Regions from separate parts of the Homo sapiens genome. Here region 1 is linked to region 2. The links come from fine-mapping of genetic effects on gene expression. Tissue or cell type: aorta. Region 2 holds a variant in brackets; the other region holds the start of a gene. All regions are shown on one strand. Distances are from middle to middle.

Evidence for each region. PIP is the estimated chance that this variant, and not a neighbour inherited with it, causes the effect.
Region 1: it holds the start of CCDC171, and the variant in region 2 is fine-mapped to the expression of CCDC171 in aorta (GTEx, PIP above 0.99).

The regions. Positions count from the first base shown.
Region 1 is chr9:15,548,036-15,556,179 of GRCh38, reverse strand. CCDC171 (coiled-coil domain containing 171) reads right to left here and starts at 3,137. Exons shown (of 26, transcript NM_173550.4): 1 at 2,878-3,137. RefSeq lists enhancers at 2,830-2,999, 2,895-3,540 and silencers at 3,280-3,369, 3,380-3,439.
Region 2 is chr9:15,941,000-15,948,999 of GRCh38, reverse strand. All of the region lies in intron 25 of CCDC171 (coiled-coil domain containing 171), which reads right to left. Among named protein-coding and RNA genes, the nearest start is that of LINC03041, 330 kb to the left of the region's middle. The variant T/C (reference allele first, on the strand shown) is at 3,900.

The sequences.
Region 1 (8,144 bases), 390 kb after region 2:
TGTAAATCATGCTGCTATAAAGACACATGCACACATATGTTTATTGCGGCACCATTCACCATAGCAAACACTTGGAACCAACCCAAATGTCCATCAATGATAGACTGGATTAAGAAAATGTGGCACATATACACCATGGAATACTATGTAGCCATAAAAAAGGATGAGTTCATGTCCTTTGTAGGGAGATGGATAAAGCTAGAAACCATCATTCTGAGCAAAATATCGCAAGGACAGAAAACCAAACACCGCATGTTCTCACTCTTAGGTAGGAATTGAACAACGAGAATACTTGGACACAGGGTGGGGAACATCACACACCGGGGCCTGGCAGAGAGTGGGGGAAGGTGGGAGGTATAGCATTAGGAGATATACTTAATGTAAATGACGAGTTAACAGGTGCAGCACACCAACATGGCACATGTATGCATATGTAACAAACCTGCACATTGTGCACATGTACTCTATAACTTAAAGTATAATAATAAAAGAAATAAAAATAGATACTCAGTCACTTGACTAAAGTCACATCTCTCACATCTCTAGTGACAGGGTCAGGATTTACACCCAAGTTAGCTGACTCCAGAGCTCTGCTGTGTGCCTTGCTATTGGCCCTCAAGACACAGTTCATCCCAGTCAGGGAAGCATGTAAGACCTCACTTATCAGGGAAGCATTTCTGCTCTTTGCTGGAGATTTCTTAAAAATATCATTTTTCCCCGTATCGAAACTGACAAGCCATGGCCTTCTCAACAAAAGATTACTCAGACCTTCAGTCGATTCTCAATCCAGATAGCACCTTCACAGTTCTGGACCAAAACCAGGCCATCCTGTAGCAGTAATAGATAAAGAAAGGCAAGGTTCAAATTAGCTTTTTATGTTAATGTATTAATAGATTAATCTTTTTTTGATAGTGGAGTTGAACTAATCTCACCATTCCTACTAAAATAGATGATGGGATATTATGTGTATCATTCATCAATGAGAAGCATTTTTAAAAATAGATAAAAGGGTAATTGAGGCCAAGGGATCAGTGATCCCGACATCCTGAGAGGAGGTGCCAGCCAGAAAGGCGAATCTACTTTAGATTTCGGAGCCACTACTGGTAAAAAATTTTTCTACCTTACATCTGAGTCCTTCAGTTGGTCATCCCAAATGCACTCATCTTTCAGTGTGTCTGCACAGATCAGAGGAAAAACGAGGGATGGGTGGATGAAAAAATAGAAATTCCTATTATTGAGCCACTTACTATATGCCAGATACTGAGATCAGCATTCCTGATCTCATTTAATCCCAACATCTCTATGAGATTATGCACATTTCACAGATAAGAAAACTGAGGCTTGGAGATGTTGAATAATTTGTGTAAAAATATTCAGCCGGAAAATGAGAATTCAAATCCACATCTGGCTAAGTCCATCCTCTTTCACTACGCAGTGCTGTCTTCATTAGTAACCACACCTGTGTTGGAAGTGTTTCTCAGCATAGGTACATAATCAACCTTTAAAGGGGAAGTTTGGTTCTTACATCAAAACAAGACCAAGACCAAGGGACTGAGACAACCAAAACGTTTTAGAATCAAATGAGACTTTAGAGACTAAGTCCTTCCTCCTTATCTGACAGATAAAGAACCTAACGCCTAGGAAGGTTAGGTGGTTTGCCTGTGGGGACGCAGCTCATAAATGGCTGAGCCCCAAGACTAACACAGAAAGCTACAAACTAAGACTATGCCCTTCATCTTTCCTCTTAGCAGGTTGCACTGCCTTTGTTTCCTCTGCATTTTATGAAAAACCATGTTCATCTTCTGCTCTACCACTGTTTTGTTGAGAGTAGGAACTAACAGTTAAATAAAATAAGTGACATGCCGGGCGCAGTGGCTCACGCCTGTAATCCCAGCACTTTGGGAGGCCGAGGCGGGCGGATCACGATGTCAGGAGATCGAGACCATCCTGGCTAACACAGTGAAACCCCGTCTCCACTAAAAATACAAAAAAATTAGCCGGGCGTGGCGGCGTGCGCCGGTTGTCCCGGCTGCTGGGGAGGCTGAGACAGGAGAATGGCGTGAACCCGGGAGGCGGAGCTTGCAGTGAGCCGAGATCGCGCCACTGCACTCCAGCCTGGGTGACAGAGCAAGACTCCATCTCAAAAAAAAAAAAAAGTGACAAAATCGTATGTTCTTTTCTCCAATATTATGAAAACCATAAAACATCGGTATGTCATGTATTCAAAAGAGCTGGACACCAACTCTAATAAACAAAATAAAGACGTATTTATCTCATTTACCTAAAATGTATACATGAAATATGTATTTTCTTAGGATCAATATCATAATGGAATAAAAAAATTCAAAAAGTCGGCTCCATTTCTGCAGAAAATTTACAGCTTCGGGAAAACGCACAGCTGACTCAGATTCTAAGTCTCTCAGAGTCCTGGAGGGTAGGTAGAAGCTGCAGGTGACAGTCTAGCACAACTCATTCCCGTTTATCAAACATCTGTAGAGTGTCTAGTGTGTGGCCGGCATTTAAAAAGGGGAGAGCGGGCTGAAAGACGTGGTCCCTATCCTCGAGGGGCTTACTGATTCTCGGGAACGAAAGCGCTCCGCAGCAGTAACCCTAAGAAGCTCCAAATCCCGGTCCTCTGCCTCCCCTCTGGTCCCCATCCGGCGCTCTGGTACAGCCTCAGCGATCTCTGGCTAGGATGCTCCACGGAGATCTTCCTCCAGGTGGGCGGGGAGACCCAGCCCAGGGAGCTGGAGGCGTGCCCCAAAGCCTACGCCAACAGCCCCAGGGCCGCCCCAAACTCACTCAGGGGCCCCTACAACCCTCTCAACACCTCCCTCCCAAGTCGTCCGCCTCGAAGCCCCCACACCGTGCGGTTACCTCAGGGGTCTCGCGTGATCCGTGCTGCACACCCAAGACCCCAGGGGCCGCTCCAAGTCTCACGGGTGAAAGGAGGCCCAGGCAGCCCACGGGAATAAGAGCAAAAACTGTTGGAACACGACGGACTCCAGGACCCGGGAGGAGGGGGACAAACAGCAAAGGGGTACAGAAGGGGAAGAGCCCCCGGGAGGTGAAGTTTACAACTGCCACTTCCGGAGCTGAAAACACTCCGCTTCTCTCGCAGACCTTCCCAGACTTTCACAGGTCAGCCCAACTCAGGCCCGGCCCCACTTTTTCCTCCCGCCTCCCGCAGCCCTCAGCTTGCAGCTCCTGGATACGTACTCCGAGAACGCTGGCTCGGATTGGAAGAGCCCGCCCGCCAAGCAGCGCGCCTTCGCTGAGGGACGAACGGGCGCATGCGCCGTTGCTGGGGAGCGGCGGGCTCGCGACCGCACGCGCTCTCGCTCCAGGAGCTCCGCGTCCCCGCGCGGGGGTGCGCCCTGCCCACGCGCTGCTGTGGCTTTTCAGCGTGAGGTGTCCGCGTTCCTGTCTCAGTCGCCAGAGCCGAGTGGAAATGCAGATTTCCAGCTTCTAACCCCTTTTCCCTGCCTGCTGAATAAAAACCTAAGAGGTCGGATCCCAGATCCTGCTTTTTGAAACTGGTTCTTCTGCCCATCTTTAGAGCCACAGCAACGGTGGGCTGGTCCCGGGGCCTGGGGAGAAATTCTCTGGGCTCGGGTTCTGCCCAACTGCCTGGTTTACCTCTGTCTGGACAGCTCTCTGCCTGCACAGGGCATCCTGTCCCCTCTTCCCGTCCCCATTGTATCCCAGCTGGGAGTGGTGAGCAGGGTCGGAAGAATGCATTGATGCTGCTTGCAGTGCGTTTCATTATCAACATTACGTAACCAGGCACATCGTGGAAAACGCCTCGGAGCCTTAGCATGTGTGTTCCCTATCTCTTTCCTCGCTTCTCTCACTTTTCTCTGACACACACACACACACACACACACACACACACACACACACACACACCGTCCTCTTATTGATAATTTATACTTTGGTTCCTCCCGGTGGCTGCTTCACAATCTGCTGCCGCCTAAGGGAGACTGGAAAACCAACTCCTCTTTTGTTCCTTAACTTTTGAAAGCCTATTCTTCCAGAGAACAATGCAAATTGACAGGATTTGGTCAAAGATTTTTATCTTCACCACCACCACCTCCTCTGCACAAAAAGGTGTTTAATGCAAAACGAGCCTTCTATACTAAACTGGGTCCTTGTTGATTGTAATCAACCTGAAACCAGGTGTAGGGGCCGTCTTTTCTCTCTCCCATGGGAGAGCCAACGGTCATAAATGCAAACACAAATTGAGATTAAAACCTCCTTGATTCTTGTAGCACTGAAACCTTAATTGGTTTGATTTTAGTCATTTACATCTAAAACGGAGGCCTGTCCCTGATTCTTTTTACTAGAGCCATAAAGAGGACAATTGCTCCAGAGGAAATAAAGGGAAAAAATAGCCCACTCTAAAGTTTAGAAATGAAATGGAAAATTACAACTGACTAATGAGATTAGAACTTTTATGTTACAAGCTTTAAAAAATATTTTTAAATTTTATTTTTTTCTTTTTCTTTTTTTTTTTTTTTTTTTTGAAACAGGGTTGTTCTCTGTTGCCCAGGCTAGAGTACAGCGGCACAATCACGCCTCGCTGCAGCCTAGACCTTCAGGACTCAAGCCATCCTCCTGCCTCAGCCTCCTGAGTAGCTGGAACTACTTAAAATTTCATTTGTGTTGGCCGGGCGCGGTGGCTCACGTCTGTAATCCCAGCACTTTGGGAGGCCGAGGTGGGCGGATCATGAGGTCAGGGGACCGAGACCATCCTGGCTGACACGGTGAAACCCTGTCTCTACTAAAAATACAAAAAAAATTAGCTGGGCGTGGTGGCGGGCGCCTGTAGTCCCAGCTACTCGGGAGGCTGAGGCAGGAGAATGGCGTGAACCCGGGTGGTGGAGCTTGCAGTGAGCCGAGATTGCGTCACTGCACTCCAGCCTGGGCGACAGAGCGCGACTCCGTCTCAAAAAAAAAAAAAAAAAAATTATTTGTGTTTTAACAAAGTCACAAAAGTGAATATTGTATCGCAAGAATAAATGCTATGTACTATATTGTATGTTTTTGAAATGAAAAATGGATGTGATGTGAAGACCCGTTTTCATTTATTTGTTCATTCAGCATTTACAGAATACAGACTATGTACCCAACATGGAGCTAGATGATAGAAATACAGGGGAATATTGATATCAACCCTGAGCTCCCAGAAATGATTCATAGAAAAGAACTTTGAGCTTAGTTTAAGAAGACCGTTAAAGATTTATGAAGCTAACAAGGAACTAGAAGGAAGACACGGAAGCTGCAAACACCAGCATAAGAACCAGCACCAGACATTTGAAAAGCTGGAAAAAGCTGTCTGTGCAAAGGAGGTGTGAGCGATGAGGCTAGAGAAATATGCAGAACCCAGATCACAGAGGAATTTCTACATCATACTTAGGAGTTTATCAAGCAATGAAGCTAATGAAGGGTTTTAAGCAGAAAAAATATAAAAATTACACAATAAATCAGACCATTTCAAAATGCGTGGAGATTCTCTGTTGTCTTTTATTTGCTTAACATGCTACTACTACTTGAAAAAAGCTATATAAAGAGATGTTCTCCTACCCGCTTATCTTTTGGCCTCAACATCACTTCATTTCTCTCTCTTCTTTCTACCAATCCTTTTGAGATATGATTAGATTCATTCATTCACACCACTCTACCAATAGCTTCCAAAGTCAGTAGTGACCTCATTGCCAAATCTGAGACCCCTTGACTTTGCTGACACATGTTGATCCTCAGATGCCTCTCCAGCAAAGGTGAGACTCTATACTCCATTGTTTCTCCAACTCTCTGAACTTTCTGCTGCTGCTCAGGAAACCATTCTTCCCTTCCTGCCCCTCAAAGTGATATTTTCTCAGTTTCTGCCCTCAACCTTCCCATCGTTTGTACCAGATAAGCGTCCTCAGTGATGTCATCCATTCCTGCAAGTATGAACTCCATATCCCCAATATTCAACTCTTTATATCCATCTCTGACCTCTCCTGAGCTCTAGTTTTGAATTTTTAACCCCGGTTTGAACAGTGCCACTCTAATTTCTGGAAATACTTAATTTAATATAACTAAATTTTAATTATCTTTCTAACTTCTTGTGGGAATCCTCTAAACTACTCTCCCACCTGTTTATAAAACTTCTAATCTCCTAGACACCCAGGCAAGAAAAACCCTAAAAATTTTGTTTGCGTCTTTCTCTCTCAAACTCTCACTTCCTGCATGCAGGATTCCTACTTTTTCTCTAAACCTCATGTCTTCTTTCTGTGCCTACTTAGTACTAAGCAACTTCATTTGTCTGTTTCCTTATTGCTTCCTATTGAGACACTCATAATTAGGACCTTCCTTGTGGCCCAATGCAAGTCACTCACCTTCCCCTTCTGTGCAAATTCTTGACATTTTTAGAAGTTGACCATTAACATCTAGGGCATTTTTAAACTGGCATATATAAGAAGAGAGGATCAAAAAAATAGAAAAAAATCAAAAGCAGGTCTAAGAACACCTGTATCTTTATGAAACTAGGGGAGTGTAATAAACTGATTGTACGTATGTGAGCCTCAGAGTTTTAAAGCACCAGATGAACCACATTCTTTTGACCCTTCTGTAACCTCCCCTAGAAGGTTTAAATACCAGGTTTTGATTATTATTTTTTTTAATTATACTTTAAGTTCTGGGGTACATGTGCAGAATGTGCAGGTTTGTTACATAGCTATACATGTGCCATGGTGGTTTGCTGCACCCATCAACCCGTCATCTACATTAGGTATTTTTCCTAATGCTATCCCTCCCCTAGTCTCCCACCCCCCACCCCCCACCCCACAGCTTCTTGATTATTATGCTGCCTTGGTATCAATTCGTAGAACTGAAAGGCCTTGCCATAATTGTTGCTCTCAGTGGCTCTGGTCCTATGCTCCTTCTATATGCTAAAACGGAAATATCCTTCTAAAGCATAACTCTGATTATGTTACTATACTGATTATTTCTTTTGGTGGCCCCTCAATTGCTGCCTGGATAAAACCCAGATTTTCTGCTGTCAGTCAAGGGCCCTAATCTCCCTACCCGCCTTTCCAGACTTGCTTTTTCTGACCTTGCAATAAATCTTCCTTCTCATTCTTACATTAGCAAAAGAAAACACAAAATGTTTGGGAATAAATGTAATAAGAGGTAGGCATGGGCTTGTGTTAAAAGTATTAAGATACATAGGTTAATATACAAGATTTAAATCCAGATAATATTATTTTGTGTTTGTTTTTTAAATTTATATGTTTTTTATTTTCAGAGACAGGGTTTCATTATGTTGCCTAGGCTGATCTCAAGTGATCCGCCCACCTTGGCCTCCCAAAGTGCTGGGATTATAGGTGTGAACCACCACTCTTAGCCAAATAACATTATTAAACATGTAATATGTGCCAAGCACTATACTAAGGGGTTTCACATTTGCTATGGTTTGAATGTGTCCCCCAAATTACAATGACTTCTAATTCTAAGCATTAAAGTGAAAGGAAGACACACCTAAAGCTAGAAATGATTAGCTTAGTGAGGAAGGCATGTCAAAATCCGAGACAGGCTGAGAGCTAGGCCTCTTGCGCCAAATGGTAGCCAAGGTATTAATGCACAGGAAAAATTCTTGAAGGAAATTAGGCCAGGTGTGGTGGCTCAAGCCTGTAATCCCAGCACTTTGGGAGGCTGAGGCAGGGGAATGCCAGCACTTTGGGAGGCTAAAATGGGAGGCAAGGAATTTGAGTCTAGCCTTGGTGACAGGATGAGACTCCAGTGGACACACAAATTATAAGAACGTGAAACAGCCTTATTAGTGATATGAAGAAAGTTGTAGTGTCTAGGTAGAAGATCAAACCAGCAACACTCCCTGAATTAGGCCAAAGCTTAATTCAGAGTAAGACCCAAACTCTCTTAAATTCTGCGAAGGCTGAGAGAGGTGAAGAAGCTGCAGAAGAAAAGTTGGAAGCTAGCAGAAATTGGTTCATAAGTTTTAAAGAAAGAAGCCTTCTTTGTAACATTCAAGTGCAAAGTAAACCAACAAGTGCTGATGTAGCAGCTGCAACAAGTTATCCAGAAGATGTAGCTAAGATCATTGATGATGACTATTCTGAACAACAGATTTACAATGTACA
Region 2 (8,000 bases):
CACTAAAATCAATTCGAGATGGATTAAAGACTTAAATGTTAGACCTAAAACCATAAAAACCAGAGAAGAAAACCTAGGCATTACCATTCAGGACATAGGCATGGGCAAGGACTTCATGTCTAAAACACCAAAAGCAATGGCAACCAAAGCCAAAATTGACAAATGGGATCTAATTAAACTAAAGAGCTTCTGCACAGCAAAAGAAACTACCATCAGAGTGAACAGGCAACCCACAAAATGGGAGAAAATCTTCGCAACCTACTCATCTGACAAAGGGCTAATATCCAGAATCTACAATGAACTCAAACAAATTTAAAAGAAAAAAACAACCCCATCAAAAAGGGGGCGAAGGACATGAACAGACACTACTCAAAAGAAGACATTTATGCAGCCAAAAAACACATGAAAAAATGCTCACCATCACTGGCCATCAGAGCAATGCAAATCAAAACCACAATGAGATATCATCTCACACCAGTTAGAATGGCAATCATTAAAAAGTCAGGAAACAACAGGTGCTGGAGAGGATGTGGAGAAATAGGAACACTTTTACACTGTTGGTGGGACTGTAAACTAGTTCTACCATTGTGGAAGTCAGTGTGGTGATTCCTCAGGGATCTAGAACTAGAAATACCATCTGACCCAGCCATCCCATTACTGGGTATATACCCAAAGGACTATAAATCATGCTGCTATAAAGACACATGCACACCTATGTTTATTGCGGCATTATTCACAATAGCAAAGACTTGGAACCAACCCAAATGTCCAACAACGATAGACTGGATTAAGAAAATGTGGCACATATGCACCATGGAATACTATGCAGCCATAAAAAATGATGAGTTCATGTCCTTTGTAGGGACATGGATGAAATTAGAAATCATCATTCTCAGTAAACTATCGCAAGAACAAAAAACCAAACACCACATATTCTCACTCATAGGTGGGAATTGAACAATGAGAACACATGGACACAGGAAGGGGAACATCACACTGTGGGGACTGTTGTGGGGTGGGGGCAGCGGGGAGGGATAGCATTGGGAGATATACCCAATGCTAGATGATGAGTTAGTGGGTGCAGCGCACCAGCATGGCACATGTATACATATGTAACTAACCTGCACATTGTGCACATGTACTCTAAAACCTAAATAATAATAAATTAAAAAAAAATAAAAAAATTAAAAAAAATATGGAAGCATACTTGTATGCCCATTATGAACCACTGGGAAAAAAAAATAGAATCACCAAATGATCCAGTAATTTCACTTCTGGGTATAACCCTGAAAGAATTGAAAGTAGGGTCTTGAAGAGATATTTGTATACCCACATTCGTAGGAACATTATTCACAATTGCTAAAACAAGGAAGTAACCCATGTCCATCAATGGATGACTGAATAAGCAGAATGTGCTATATACATACAATGGAATATTATTCAGCCCTACAAAAGAAGGAAATGCTGATATATGCTACTATGCTACAACATGTATTAACCTTGAGGACATTATGCTAAGTGAAATAGGCCATGCACGAAAAGACAAATACTGTAGAATTCTACTTATATGAAATACTTAGAGTCGTCAAAATAATAGAGAAAAAATAGAATGGTGATTGCCAGGATCTAGGGAGATGGGGGAAATGGGAAATTACTGTTTAATGGGTATACAAGTAGGGTATTTTAAAAGTGTATTTAGTGATGTCATAACATAAGCTTTTATCCATAAATTCCACAAACACCCTATAAGTTTTTAACGTCTATGAATGTTAAGGTCTCAGAATTTCTATGATATATATGCAACTATAATTTTCTAATAAATATATGTAGAAAGGGTTTATAACAATGGTGACACACATCACTTGTTCTTCCATTATCCAAATTCATATTATAGGTATTTGTTGTCTTTCTAAAATCCCAACTTAGTTTGACTTGTTAGAATCATGTTTTTTAGTTTCTAAATGAATGTAATTTTATTATCACAGATTCTTATGATACAATAAAACTGAGACAGATTAAAATGCTAATTGTACAACCTAAACAACAAAACCCTGTAATTCAGAAAAAAAGTGTTTATATATAAAAGTGCTATCTCCCCGTCATCAATAAGTCAAGCATTTAACAACATATCTTGAAACCTAACTAAACAACATTTACTTAGGCAGAGGTACAAAAATGCCCATCAAAAGGCATCTAATTCAAAACTATAAGAATTCTAGCTTTGTAGTATAGTTTGAAGTCAGGTAGTGTGATGCCTCCAGCTTTGTTCTTTTGGCTTAGGATTGACTTGGCGATGCAGGCTCTCTTTTGGTTCCATATGAACTTTAAAGTATTTTTTTCCAATTCTGTGAAGAAAGTCATTGGTAGCTTGATGGGGATGGCATTGAATGTAGAAATTACCTTGGGCAGTATGGCCATTTTCACGATATTGATTCTTCCTACCCATGAGCATGGAATGTTCTTCCATTTGTTTGTATCCTGTTTTATTTTGTTGAGCAGTGGTTTGTAGTTCTACTTGAAGAGGTCCTTCACGTCCCTTGTAAGGTGGATTCTTAGGTATTTTATTCTCTTTGAAGCAATTGTGAATGGGAGTTCACTCATGATTCGGCTCTCTGTTTGTCTGTTATTGGTGTATAAGAACGCTTGTGATTTTTGCACATTGATTTTGTATCCTGAGACTTTGCTGAAGTTGCTTATCAGCTTAAGGAGATTTTGGCTACAGTAACCAAAACAGCATGGTACTGGTACCAAAACTGAGATATAGATCAATGGAACAGAACAGAGCCCTCAGAAATAATGCCATATATCTACAACTATCTGATCTTTGACAAACCTGAGAAAAACAAGCAATGGGGAAAGGATTCCCTATTTAATAAATGATGCTGGGAAAACTGGCTAGCCATATGTAGAAAGCTGAAACTGGATCCCTTCCTTACACCTTATACTAAAATCAATTCAAGATGGATTAAAGACTTAAACGATAGACCTAAAACCATAAAAACCAGAGAAGAAAACCTAGGCATTACCATTCAGGACATAGGCATGGGCAAGGACTTCATGTCTAAAACACCAAAAGCAATGGCAACCAAAGGCAAAATTGACAAATGGGATCTAATTAAACTAAAGAGCTTCTGCACAGCAAAAGAAACTACCATCAGAGTGAACAGGCAACCCACAAAATGGGAGAAAATCTTCGCAACCTACACATCTGACAAAGGGCTAATATCCAGAATCTACAATGAACTCAAACAAATTTACAAGAAAAAAACAAACAACCCCATCAAAAAGGGGGTGAAGGACATGAACAGACACTACTCAAAAGAAGACATTTATGCAGCCAAAAAACACATGAAAAAATGCTCACCATCACTGGCCATCAGAGCAATGCAAATCAAAACCACAGTGAGATATCATCTCACACCAGTTAGAATGGCAATCATTAAAAAGTCAGGAAACAACAGGTGCTGGAGAGGATGTGGAGAAATAGGAACACTTTTACACTGTTGGTGGGACTGTAAACTAGTTCTACCATTGTGGAAGTCAGTGTGGCGATTCCTCAGGGATCTAGAACTAGAAATACCATCTGACCCAGCCATCCCATTACTGGGTATATACCCAAAGGACTATAAATCATGCTGCTATAAAGACACATGCACACCTATGTTTATTGCGGCATTATTCACAATAGCAAAGACTTGGAACCAACCCAAATGTCCAACAACGATAGACTGGATTAAGAAAATGTGGCACATATACACCATGGAATACTATGCAGCCATAAAAAATGATGAGTTCATGTCCTTTGTAGGGACATGGATGAAATTGGAAATCATCATTCTCAGTAAACTATCACAAGAACAAAAAACCAAACACCGCATATTCTCACTCATAGGTGGGAA[T/C]TGAACAATGAGAACACATGGACACAGGAAGGGGAACATCACACTCTGGGGACTGTTGTGGGGTGGGCGGGGGAGAGGGATAGCATTGGGAGATATACCTAATGCTAGATGACGAGTTAGTGGGTGCAGCGCACCAGCATGGCACATGTATACATATGTAACTAACCTGCATATTGTGCACATGTACCCTAAAACTTAAAGTATAATGATAAAAAAGAAAGAAAGAAAGAAAGAAAGAAAGAAAGAAAGAAAGAAAGAAAGAAAAAAGAAAGAAAAAGAATTCTAACCCAACTACCATGCTCTGCCTAGAATAAAGGAGTTACTTTGTGGCCTTGGTAGTTCCTTCCTACTTTGAAAACAAGTAAAAATTATGTCTATCCTCAATTGATTATAACATAAAGGAAATGGCATTAACAATAATAACAGGAACCTTACAGGCATCCTTTCATTTAAACCCGCATGCCTAGCTACTATGAATGGGCTCTTGAGCTGAACTGCCTGTGTTCAAATATTTGCTTCAATACGTAATAAGCAATACAGCATAATAAGAGTTCATAAAAATAATATATCCCCATAAGAGTGTTGTAAGTATTGAATACATTAACACATTTAAGGCCCTGACAATGTCTCACACATGGAAAGTATTAGATAAATGTTAGCTAATCCTTCTCCTCCTCCCCATCCTTTCCTTTTACAGCATTTTAGCAACCCTCTGGCTCAAAAACTATATATCGACAAGTCCTCTTCTGTTTCATGTTCACAGATTATGCCTTTACCTGAAAGATACTTTCCAGTGGTCACAAGAAGGCTTCAATAATTAAGTGTAGATGACTTTGGCCAAAAAGAAAAGCAATAGCCACAGTGGTTTACAAAAAGCCAGCACTCTCAGCTCTTTGGTTTAATAACTAGATGATGCTGAGAAAATCCCCCAACTTTTCTGAATCTTACAAATATCACGTTTATCACAAAAAAACCTGTAAGGGTATGTATATGGGTATATTTCAAAAATTGTAAAGAACTGCAGAAAGAAATAAAAACATCAACATTACTGCAAAAGAAAAAACAACACATAGTTTAACCTTACTCTCTTACAGGCTAGTGGCATCCTGTTTCGGTTCACATAGTTCTCCCTGCCTGGAATTCCTTGTTCAAGCCCTATCATTCCTTCAAAATCAAGCTCAAATACAACTTCTTAAAAATATTCCCTAACCATCTCATTTCAATAAATTTATCTTTTCAAACCCCATGAGCATTTATCACCTTATTGCACTACAGGAGTCTATCCTGACTCACCAACTGATTATAAGTTCCATCAAATCAGCAACTCTTCATTATGCCTTTTTGTATTCAATCCATGTGCAGATACAACTACCTTGCCTGCATAAAAGATGGGAAGAGAAAGAGCTCTAAAAGATTTTAGAACTCTTCAAAAGGGAAGATAATTTATTGATTGATTCAATAAACCTTCGTTGGGCACTTGGCAATGAGTCAGGTACAGTGTGGGTGCTGCTAAGGCTATAAGGTTAAATAATACACAATGTCTGACTTCGAGATCCCAAGCTTTGCAAAATCAAAAATATACTTAGACCTGCATCTGGTTCTAAATATACAAGTATTAATTCATTGCTATTATATGTTTAATTGTTAAATTATTTCATATCAATAACCTGATCTTTTTAAACATACAATGTTCCCACCATTTGCAGAAATAAAAGCAAGCACAATTTCTTATCATCCTGTCTAATGTACCCTATATGTGTCTCATAAGTTCTAAATCATAAATAAGTGTTTTTTTCTGGCACAGATCTAAAGAAAAAGTCTTTTGACATTTCCTTTTAAATATCTCTGCTCTTCTCATCCTTAAACTGATGAAAATACCACACTGCCACCATGCGAACTAGGATCACTGAATTAAATATATCAGTGACAATAAAGACAAAGCTGTTAACAATGCTGAGAAACACACATGTAATATAGAACCATTCTTATGTTGCCACAAACTTGATACGAAACACAAAATCTTCAAAGGGAAAAGTAACATCAAACAAAGCTGACAAGACAGCCAGCAGTTTAACTCAGGACCCATCTCCTTATACGGCTTGGTTTGGGTTCAGCAGTTAAAGCTCAGAGTTCAGAGCTATTCTCAGGTGGGCTGACATTCTTACCATCTGCCTCCTGAATTGCTTTGTTTCTTTTTCTTTTTTTTAAACTTACCATTCTACATTGCTATTAATATTGTAGGAGCATTTGGTCATAGTTTAAAATTTCTATAATACCCTATATCTTTCTCTATATTTCTTCTGGGAAAGCACAATAATTCAGTATTTTCTTCTTAAGGATATGGAATGTCAACACATAAGGACAATCTGTTGCAGAAATTATGATTCCTACTAAACTCAAAAACATATCCCAAAGCACTCTCTTTACCTGAACTTAGAACTTAAAAGAATATTTCTTCCATTCTTTGCATTATTTTTCAGCGCTACAGATTGTCTACTAGTATATTCCTCACCATTATTACTTATTTATTGTACTCCAGTAGTATGCTAGGCACTGAATAAGGTAAAAACAAGACACAATTCCTGATCTCAGGTGAACAATTCAAATACAACCCACACAACAGCAATTTCTCTCCTTTCCTTTCTCCTTCCCTTAAGAAAGGGGCAGGGAGACCACAGAAATATGACATTTTCAGTAATAATCTGACATACCAGACGACCTTATTAATAAAGAAATTCCGGACCCATAGAGACAGAAGACCAATTACAGCCATTGCTTTTTGATATCTGAACTTCCAAATAGGCTTATGAACTTTAACTTGATCCACATAATTTGGAATTTATAATGGAATTTTTAGCAAACTATTTGTTATCTACCAGTATTAGGTATCGTAGTGACATCTAGGAATAGAGCAATCTCCTACTCACATAGCACTTCTAGAATAGGATTAGTCAACTAAAAATCAATTGTAATATGATACAATTAATGTTATAATTATACAAGAGGATGTTTGGGGAGAGACTTGGGATTTAAAACTTGGGAAAAAATCAAGTAGGTGAAAGGCTGAAAATACTATTCCAAGCAAGAAATCAGCATATACATAAAGGCTCATGGGGGAGAGCATGGTATATTTAAAAAGAAAAAGAATTCAAATGTGGCTGAACATGTTAAAAAGCAATGTGGTCAATGTGTGCTTTTTTAAATAATAAAAACTGAATGTAAGTAAAAACAAACCAATTTAAAAAAACAATAGATAGGTAACCCTTTTAACTGGTAACCTTATGTTAGTTCTTTGCATTTTATGCTTAAAAATGAATTGTCTTCTTTTATATAATATTGAGTATGTTGTTTCTAAATGGCTAGTTAAAAGAGAGCATTTCAGGCTGCTACTGTCTAGCACTTCTTTCAAATTATATATTGTAGCACTTGATTTTCAATAAATGTACAGCCAATCTAAATAAAGTTATCACAATTCTCTCTTCTTAACACTGGCTTTGAAACATTAAAAATATCAAGCGTTGGTATAAGAATTTTGATCAGATGAATGGAACTTGTGGATCTGTTGAAGACTGAGGTAAATTTCCCTAATTATCTTTTTTAAGATTCCTTATTATCACTGAATTTCAAACTCAGTGTTTTTTTTAAGGTTTCCTATCTATTCAATGGTATATTATGGGTGCAAATTAAATGTGAATAACAATAAAAACAAGTTTAAACTGAAAATGGTTAAGATTACAATAGTGTCCAGAAGTGTTAAACAAAGTAATAAGTTAACCAAGTATTGAATCGCTACCGGCGAGCTCCATTAACCAATACACTAACTTTCTATGCATTCCTGACTGCCAAATATTCAATTTCAAAGGTGAAAAACTTTAAATATTTAAATACTCATTTTGTTTGTTATTCTAAAAAATAGAAACTGAAACATATGCTATTACTGTTGTTAATGATCTGAATCCTCTGCAATAGTCTGCCGGCTGGGTGAGGTAACACTTAGGTGGCACAAGGCCCTGAGAGGGACACCTTTAAGTGGCATGGAAGGCTATGACAGAAATAATAATAATAAAGTGAATGAGAAAACACTTGTTTAGTACCAGAAGG